Linked DNA regions of Homo sapiens. The main gene of each other region encodes a partner of the protein of the gene in region 2 in a complex. Each region holds a gene or a part of one and is shown on either strand. Other genes may lie near its edges. A codon is read from its position in the direction of its gene.

The links.
Region 1: the proteins of HP (region 2) and HBA2 are in contact, whole or in part, in a crystal structure (PDB 5HU6), measured with the Homo sapiens proteins. Residues at the interface, in NP_005134.1 of Homo sapiens: His183, Leu185, Lys202, Phe205, Leu206, Asn207, His208, Arg286, Ala288, Asn289, Phe290, Lys291, Ser326, Pro327, Val328, Gly329, Val330, Met343, Gln347, Tyr352, Lys379, Cys381, Ala382, Val383, Glu385; in NP_000508.1 of Homo sapiens: Val2 (codon at 2,238), Pro78 (codon at 2,583), Arg93 (codon at 2,628), Asp95 (codon at 2,634), Pro96 (codon at 2,637), Val97 (codon at 2,640), Lys100 (codon at 2,649), Lys128 (codon at 2,875), Ala131 (codon at 2,884), Ser132 (codon at 2,887), Ser134 (codon at 2,893), Thr135 (codon at 2,896), Val136 (codon at 2,899), Thr138 (codon at 2,905), Ser139 (codon at 2,908), Lys140 (codon at 2,911), Tyr141 (codon at 2,914), Arg142 (codon at 2,917).

The regions. Positions count from the first base shown.
Region 1 is NC_000016.10:170,679-174,272, forward strand, and holds HBA2 (hemoglobin subunit alpha), read left to right. Parts: upstream 1-2,197; 5' UTR 2,198-2,234; coding exon 2,235-2,329; intron 2,330-2,446; coding exon 2,447-2,651; intron 2,652-2,793; coding exon 2,794-2,922; 3' UTR 2,923-3,032; downstream 3,033-3,594. UniProt on the Homo sapiens protein: Involved in oxygen transport from the lung to the various peripheral tissues.
Region 2 is NC_000016.10:72,052,507-72,056,252, reverse strand, and holds the start of HP (haptoglobin isoform 1 preproprotein), read right to left. Parts: upstream 1,749-3,746; 5' UTR 1,601-1,748; coding exon 1,596-1,600; intron 93-1,595; coding exon 10-92; intron 1-9. UniProt on the Homo sapiens protein: As a result of hemolysis, hemoglobin is found to accumulate in the kidney and is secreted in the urine. Haptoglobin captures, and combines with free plasma hemoglobin to allow hepatic recycling of heme iron and to prevent kidney damage.

The DNA of each region.
Region 1 (3,594 bases), about 72 Mb from region 2:
GCTGAGGCAGGAGAATCGCTTGAACCCGGGAGGTGGAGGTTGAGGTGAGCTGAGATCACGCCATTGCACTCCAGCCTGGGCAACAAGAGCAAAACTCCGTCTCAAAAAATAAATAAATAAATAAATAAATAAACTAAAATCTATCCATGCTTTCACACACACACACACACACACACACACACACCCTTTTTTGTGTTACTTAAAGTAGGAGAGTGTCTCTCTTTCCTGTCTCCTCACACCCACCCCCAGAAGAGACCAAAATGAAGGGTTTGGAACTCAGCCCATGGGCCCCATCCCATGCTGAGGGAACACAGCTACATCTACAACTACTGCCACAGGCTCTCTTTTTGGACAAAAATACCATCATACTGTAGATACCTGTGTACAACTTCCTATTCTCAGTGAAGTGTCTCCCCTGCATCCCTTTCAGCCAGTTCATTCAGCTCTGCGCCATTCCACAGTCTCACTGATTATTACTATGTTTCCATCATGATCCCCCCAAAAAATCATGACTTTATTTTTTTATTTTTATTATTATTATTTTTTTTTTTTTTTTTGTGACGGAGTCTCGCTCTGTCACCCAGGCTGGAGTGCAGTGGCACAATCTCGGCTCACTGCAAGCTCCACCTCGCAGGTTCACGCCATTCTCCTCCCTCAGCCTCCCGAGTAGCTGAGTAGCTGGGACTACAGGCGCCCCCCACTACGCCTGGCTAATTTTTTCTATTTTTAATAGAGACAGAGTTTCACTGCATTAGCGAGGATGGTCTCGATCTCCTGACCTCGCATCTGCCCGCCTCAGCCTCCCAATGTGCTGGGATTACAGGCGTGAGCCACCGCGCCCGGCCTTATGTATTTATTTTTTTGAGACAGAGTCTCGCTGTGTCGTCAGGCTAGAGTGCTGTGGCACGATCTCGGCTCACTGCAACCTCCAACTCCCTGGTTCAAAGGATTCTCCAGCCTCCACCTCCCGAGTAGCTGGGATTACAGGCGTGCACCACCACACCCAGCTAATTTTTGTATTTTTAGTAGAGACGGGGTTTCTCCATGTTGGTCAGCCTGGTCTCGAACTCCCGACCTCAGCTGATCCACCCGCCTTGGCCTCCCAAAGTGCTGGGATTACAGGCGTGAGCCACCGAGCCTGGCCAAACCATCACTTTTCATGAGCAGGGATGCACCCACTGGCACTCCTGCACCTCCCACCCTCCCCCTCGCCAAGTCCACCCCTTCCTTCCTCACCCCACATCCCCTCACCTACATTCTGCAACCACAGGGGCCTTCTCTCCCCTGTCCTTTCCCTACCCAGAGCCAAGTTTGTTTATCTGTTTACAACCAGTATTTACCTAGCAAGTCTTCCATCAGATAGCATTTGGAGAGCTGGGGGTGTCACAGTGAACCACGACCTCTAGGCCAGTGGGAGAGTCAGTCACACAAACTGTGAGTCCATGACTTGGGGCTTAGCCAGCACCCACCACCCCACGCGCCACCCCACAACCCCGGGTAGAGGAGTCTGAATCTGGAGCCGCCCCCAGCCCAGCCCCGTGCTTTTTGCGTCCTGGTGTTTGTTCCTTCCCGGTGCCTGTCACTCAAGCACACTAGTGACTATCGCCAGAGGGAAAGGGAGCTGCAGGAAGCGAGGCTGGAGAGCAGGAGGGGCTCTGCGCAGAAATTCTTTTGAGTTCCTATGGGCCAGGGCGTCCGGGTGCGCGCATTCCTCTCCGCCCCAGGATTGGGCGAAGCCCTCCGGCTCGCACTCGCTCGCCCGTGTGTTCCCCGATCCCGCTGGAGTCGATGCGCGTCCAGCGCGTGCCAGGCCGGGGCGGGGGTGCGGGCTGACTTTCTCCCTCGCTAGGGACGCTCCGGCGCCCGAAAGGAAAGGGTGGCGCTGCGCTCCGGGGTGCACGAGCCGACAGCGCCCGACCCCAACGGGCCGGCCCCGCCAGCGCCGCTACCGCCCTGCCCCCGGGCGAGCGGGATGGGCGGGAGTGGAGTGGCGGGTGGAGGGTGGAGACGTCCTGGCCCCCGCCCCGCGTGCACCCCCAGGGGAGGCCGAGCCCGCCGCCCGGCCCCGCGCAGGCCCCGCCCGGGACTCCCCTGCGGTCCAGGCCGCGCCCCGGGCTCCGCGCCAGCCAATGAGCGCCGCCCGGCCGGGCGTGCCCCCGCGCCCCAAGCATAAACCCTGGCGCGCTCGCGGGCCGGCACTCTTCTGGTCCCCACAGACTCAGAGAGAACCCACCATGGTGCTGTCTCCTGCCGACAAGACCAACGTCAAGGCCGCCTGGGGTAAGGTCGGCGCGCACGCTGGCGAGTATGGTGCGGAGGCCCTGGAGAGGTGAGGCTCCCTCCCCTGCTCCGACCCGGGCTCCTCGCCCGCCCGGACCCACAGGCCACCCTCAACCGTCCTGGCCCCGGACCCAAACCCCACCCCTCACTCTGCTTCTCCCCGCAGGATGTTCCTGTCCTTCCCCACCACCAAGACCTACTTCCCGCACTTCGACCTGAGCCACGGCTCTGCCCAGGTTAAGGGCCACGGCAAGAAGGTGGCCGACGCGCTGACCAACGCCGTGGCGCACGTGGACGACATGCCCAACGCGCTGTCCGCCCTGAGCGACCTGCACGCGCACAAGCTTCGGGTGGACCCGGTCAACTTCAAGGTGAGCGGCGGGCCGGGAGCGATCTGGGTCGAGGGGCGAGATGGCGCCTTCCTCTCAGGGCAGAGGATCACGCGGGTTGCGGGAGGTGTAGCGCAGGCGGCGGCTGCGGGCCTGGGCCGCACTGACCCTCTTCTCTGCACAGCTCCTAAGCCACTGCCTGCTGGTGACCCTGGCCGCCCACCTCCCCGCCGAGTTCACCCCTGCGGTGCACGCCTCCCTGGACAAGTTCCTGGCTTCTGTGAGCACCGTGCTGACCTCCAAATACCGTTAAGCTGGAGCCTCGGTAGCCGTTCCTCCTGCCCGCTGGGCCTCCCAACGGGCCCTCCTCCCCTCCTTGCACCGGCCCTTCCTGGTCTTTGAATAAAGTCTGAGTGGGCAGCAGCCTGTGTGTGCCTGGGTTCTCTCTATCCCGGAATGTGCCAACAATGGAGGTGTTTACCTGTCTCAGACCAAGGACCTCTCTGCAGCTGCATGGGGCTGGGGAGGGAGAACTGCAGGGAGTATGGGAGGGGAAGCTGAGGTGGGCCTGCTCAAGAGAAGGTGCTGAACCATCCCCTGTCCTGAGAGGTGCCAGGCCTGCAGGCAGTGGCTCAGAAGCTGGGGAGGAGAGAGGCATCCAGGGTTCTACTCAGGGAGTCCCAGCATCGCCACCCTCCTTTGAAATCTCCCTGGTTGAACCCAGTTAACATACGCTCTCCATCAAAACAAAACGAAACAAAACAAACTAGCAAAATAGGCTGTCCCCAGTGCAAGTGCAGGTGCCAGAACATTTCTCTCATTCCCACCCCTTCCTGCCAGAGGGTAGGTGGCTGGAGTGAGGGTGCTGGCCCTACTCACACTTCCTGTGTCACGGTGACCCTCTGAGAGCAGCCCAGTCAGTGGGGAAGGAGGAAGGGGCTGGGATGCTCACAGCCGGCAGCCCACACCTGGGGAGACTCTTCAG
Region 2 (3,746 bases):
AAGACTGACCTGCGATATCCGTGACATCATTGCCTGAGTCCACTGCAAAAAGCTGTCCCCAGAGCAGGAGGGCAATGACAGCTCCCAGGGCACTGCAGAGAGAAGACAAGGAGGAGTGGAAAGCTAGTCTCCCTGCTTCACAGCACATGCATGCATCCACACACACATGCATGTACACACACACACACACACATGCATACACACACACTCCTCCCACTTAGCAGCCAGAAAAGAAAGTCGATATATGGAAGTGCTAGGACCAAGAAATTGCCCCCACACCTGCCCATACACACTTTAGCAGCTTCTGAGCATACCAAGCTTCCAGCAAGCCCTGTCCTGCTGGGAATTCTGCAGAAGCTTCAGAGAGGGATAGAAAGGCACATAGGTGGAGGGGTGGGCTCAGTTTCTGGCTGCATTCAGGAAAGTACATTGGCAATAATACAGGAGCCCTCCAGGAAAGAGAAACCTCCCTCAGACACCGCAAAGATAGTGGTAATAAAATGTAGATAACTCAGAGATGGGAACTTTGGGCTTACTGTGCTATTCCTCTACTTCTTGATATTTTCCGTAATAAAAGGTTCCTTAAATATATAATTTTAAACACGTGGGTATTTCTAGTATTTTATAATAATTCACCTTTAGGAAATGGTATCTGAAACCCCAAAATGCCAGAAGGTTACCTGGAAGAGAACTGGTGTCCAAAAGCAGGACGGTGGCCATGGGCATTGACCCACAGGTGCCGTCTGCCAGTTCACCATCTCACTAACAAATGCCAACCATTCGGGCACTACTTGCTTCTATTAAAATAGTTTCTAGGCCAGACACGGTGGCTCATGCCTGTAATCCCAGCACTTTGGGAGGCCAAGGCAGGCAGATCACGAGGTCAAGAGATCGAGGTCATCCTGGCCAACATGGTGAAAGCCCGTCTCTACTAAAAATACAAAAATTAGGTGGGCATAGTGGCGCACGCCTGTAGTCCCAGCTACCTGGGAGGCTGAGGCAGGAGAATCACTTGAACCTGGGAGGTGGAGGTTGCAGTGAGCCGAGATCATGCCACTGCACTGCAGCCTGGTGACAAAGCGAGACTCCATCTCAAAAAAAAAAAAAGTTTCTAGTCTTATTATTTCAACATTTCAAAAAGTGTTTATTTTTATAAGATCTAAGTGCCTTAATTAGATGTATCCCAGGTATTAGTGTGTATCCCAGGTACTAGTCAATTAATTGTGTCATTCAAATGTGTTACTATTAGTCTTCCTTATTGTACATTTTTAAAGAGGAAAATATCTGCTAATAAATATACTCAGGATGCCAGGAAGCCTACCACGGGAGCTGATGACATACCCTATAAAGTCAAAAATGTAACCTGAAGGAAAAAGACACTCCTGAGAGTAAATCTTATCTCCTGGGAAAGACAGCAGCACTGTCTTCTATGGATGCAGAAAAGGAGAAGATTTAACACACTAAGCCCTTTGGTTCACTATAATTTAGCCCATTTGCCCGTTTCTTTGTTCTATTTCTGCATCTCTACCGATGTATGCAAAAAAGACTGAAATAAAGAACCAGAGGAAAGGCAGGAGGGAAAGCTGTGGACCCACCTCATCTTGGTTGGTCTTGCCTCTGGAAGAGCAGTGCTGTGGGGCATCTGCTGGTCTTTTTATGCTGCCACTAGCTCACTTCTCCCCCTTCTCCATTTCGTAATTCCTGTGTCTACAAACTTTGGCCCTGGTAAGGTCACTATCTTTTCCAGTAACAAAACCACAAACAATACCCCTGTTAAGAGTTGAGCTCTTGCTTCACACTTGATTTTCTTGTGATGTTCTATTACAAATCCCAAGAAACCTGGCAACTCTATGACCCACAAACCTGCCAAAGTATTTCCTGAAATCAGCAACTGGGCAGGACAGGGCGGCGGCAGGAACCATCAATCTGTCTCTTTATCTTGGAGGATTTTCACACTGCAGAAAGGCTCATTTTGAGTTTTTTCAAACCCATTGTAGACATTTCTGCAGCCTAGCTTAGGTGGGGCTCTAAAGAAAGTACTTCCTTTTCACAGTAATTTTCTCCACCTTGTGTGTGGCCATCTCCCTATTGCTTAAAAGCTCTCCAGCCTGAAATCAGTAAATGTGTTTATTGTGTCTTCTCTGATTGCTCTTTGCAAGAAATCACACAACTAGTTAAAGCTATAGTGTAGACTGACACAGACTATACTCAATGGCAGTGGTTCTCATGGTTTTATAGTCTGGTGATTAGCCTAAATAGGCAGATGAGAAAAATCAATATGTCTCAGTCAAATGTCTGCACCTGTGTGTATCCCAGGTACTAGTCAACTGAAACTTAGTAGCAACTCAATACAAGGTTGATTTATTCATTAAAAAGGGTTAGTTGTTCTTAAATTAGAGTGTACAAAAGAATTACTTTTGGATAATCATGGTGACACTGATATAATAGCAAAGTAACTAGAAACAAGACAAATGCCCATCAACAGGAGGAAGGGTCAATACTGCATTGTATGTGGATATAATGGAATATTATACAGCATAAAATGAATAAACTCTGCAAGAACATGGATCATCTTATAAACATAATTTTTGAAAGAAAACCGCAAGTTTCAGAAGATTACCTTCAGTATGATGGCAGTCTTCTAGAGATCAAAACCAAGTAAAACTTGGCAATGGATTCTTAGATAATGACACCAAAATCACCAGCAATCAAAGAAAAATTAGATAAATTGGGCTTCATCGGAATGAACATTTGTGTATCAAAAGACAGTATTAATAAAATGAAGACAGGCCAGGCGTGGTGGCTCACGCCTGTAATCCCAGCACTTCGGGAGGCTGAGGTGGGCGGATCATGAGGTCAGGAGTTTGAGACCAGCCTGACCAATGTGGTGAAATTCCATCTCTACTAAAAATACAAAAATTAGCCAGGCATGGTGGCGCATGCTTTAATCCCAGCTACTCGGAGGCTGAGGCAGGAGAATTGCTTGAACCTGGGAGGCAGAGGTTGCAGTGAGCCTAGATCGCACCACTGCACTCCAGCCTGGGTGACAGAACAAGACTCTGTCTCAAAAAAAAAAGTGAAGACAGTCTACAGAATGGGAGAAAATATTTGCAAATTCTATATCTGATAAAGGGTTGTTATCCAGAGCATATCCTAACTACAACAACAAAAAGACAAACAATTAAAGCATGGGCAAAGGATTTAAATAGACATTTCTCCAAAAAATATACATAAAGTGCCAAAAAGCACATAAAAGATACTCAAGGCTGGGGAGTGACTCACACCTGTAATCCCAGCACCTTGGGAGGCCGAGGTGGGTGGATCACCTGAGGCCGGAAGTTTGAGACCAGTCTAACCAATACGAATATGGTGAAACCCCATATTTTCTAAAAATGCAAAAATTAGTCAGGCGTGGTGGCATGCATCTGCAGTCCCAGCTACTACTTGGGAGGCTGAGACAGGAGAATTGCTTGAACCTGGGAGGCAGAGTTTGCAGTGAGCTGAGATCGCACCACTGCACTCCAGCCTGGGCAACAGAGCGAGACGTCGTCAAAAAAAAAAAAAAAAAAGTCACTCAACACCATTGGAAAATGTCAATAGGGAAATTTGCAAATCAATACCACAATGAAACACCACTTCACACCTACTAGGATGGCTACAAATTTGTGTGTGTGTGTGTGTGTGAGAGAGAAATGTTGGCAAGGATGTGGAAGAGTTAGAACCCTGGTACATTACCTTGCTAGTAA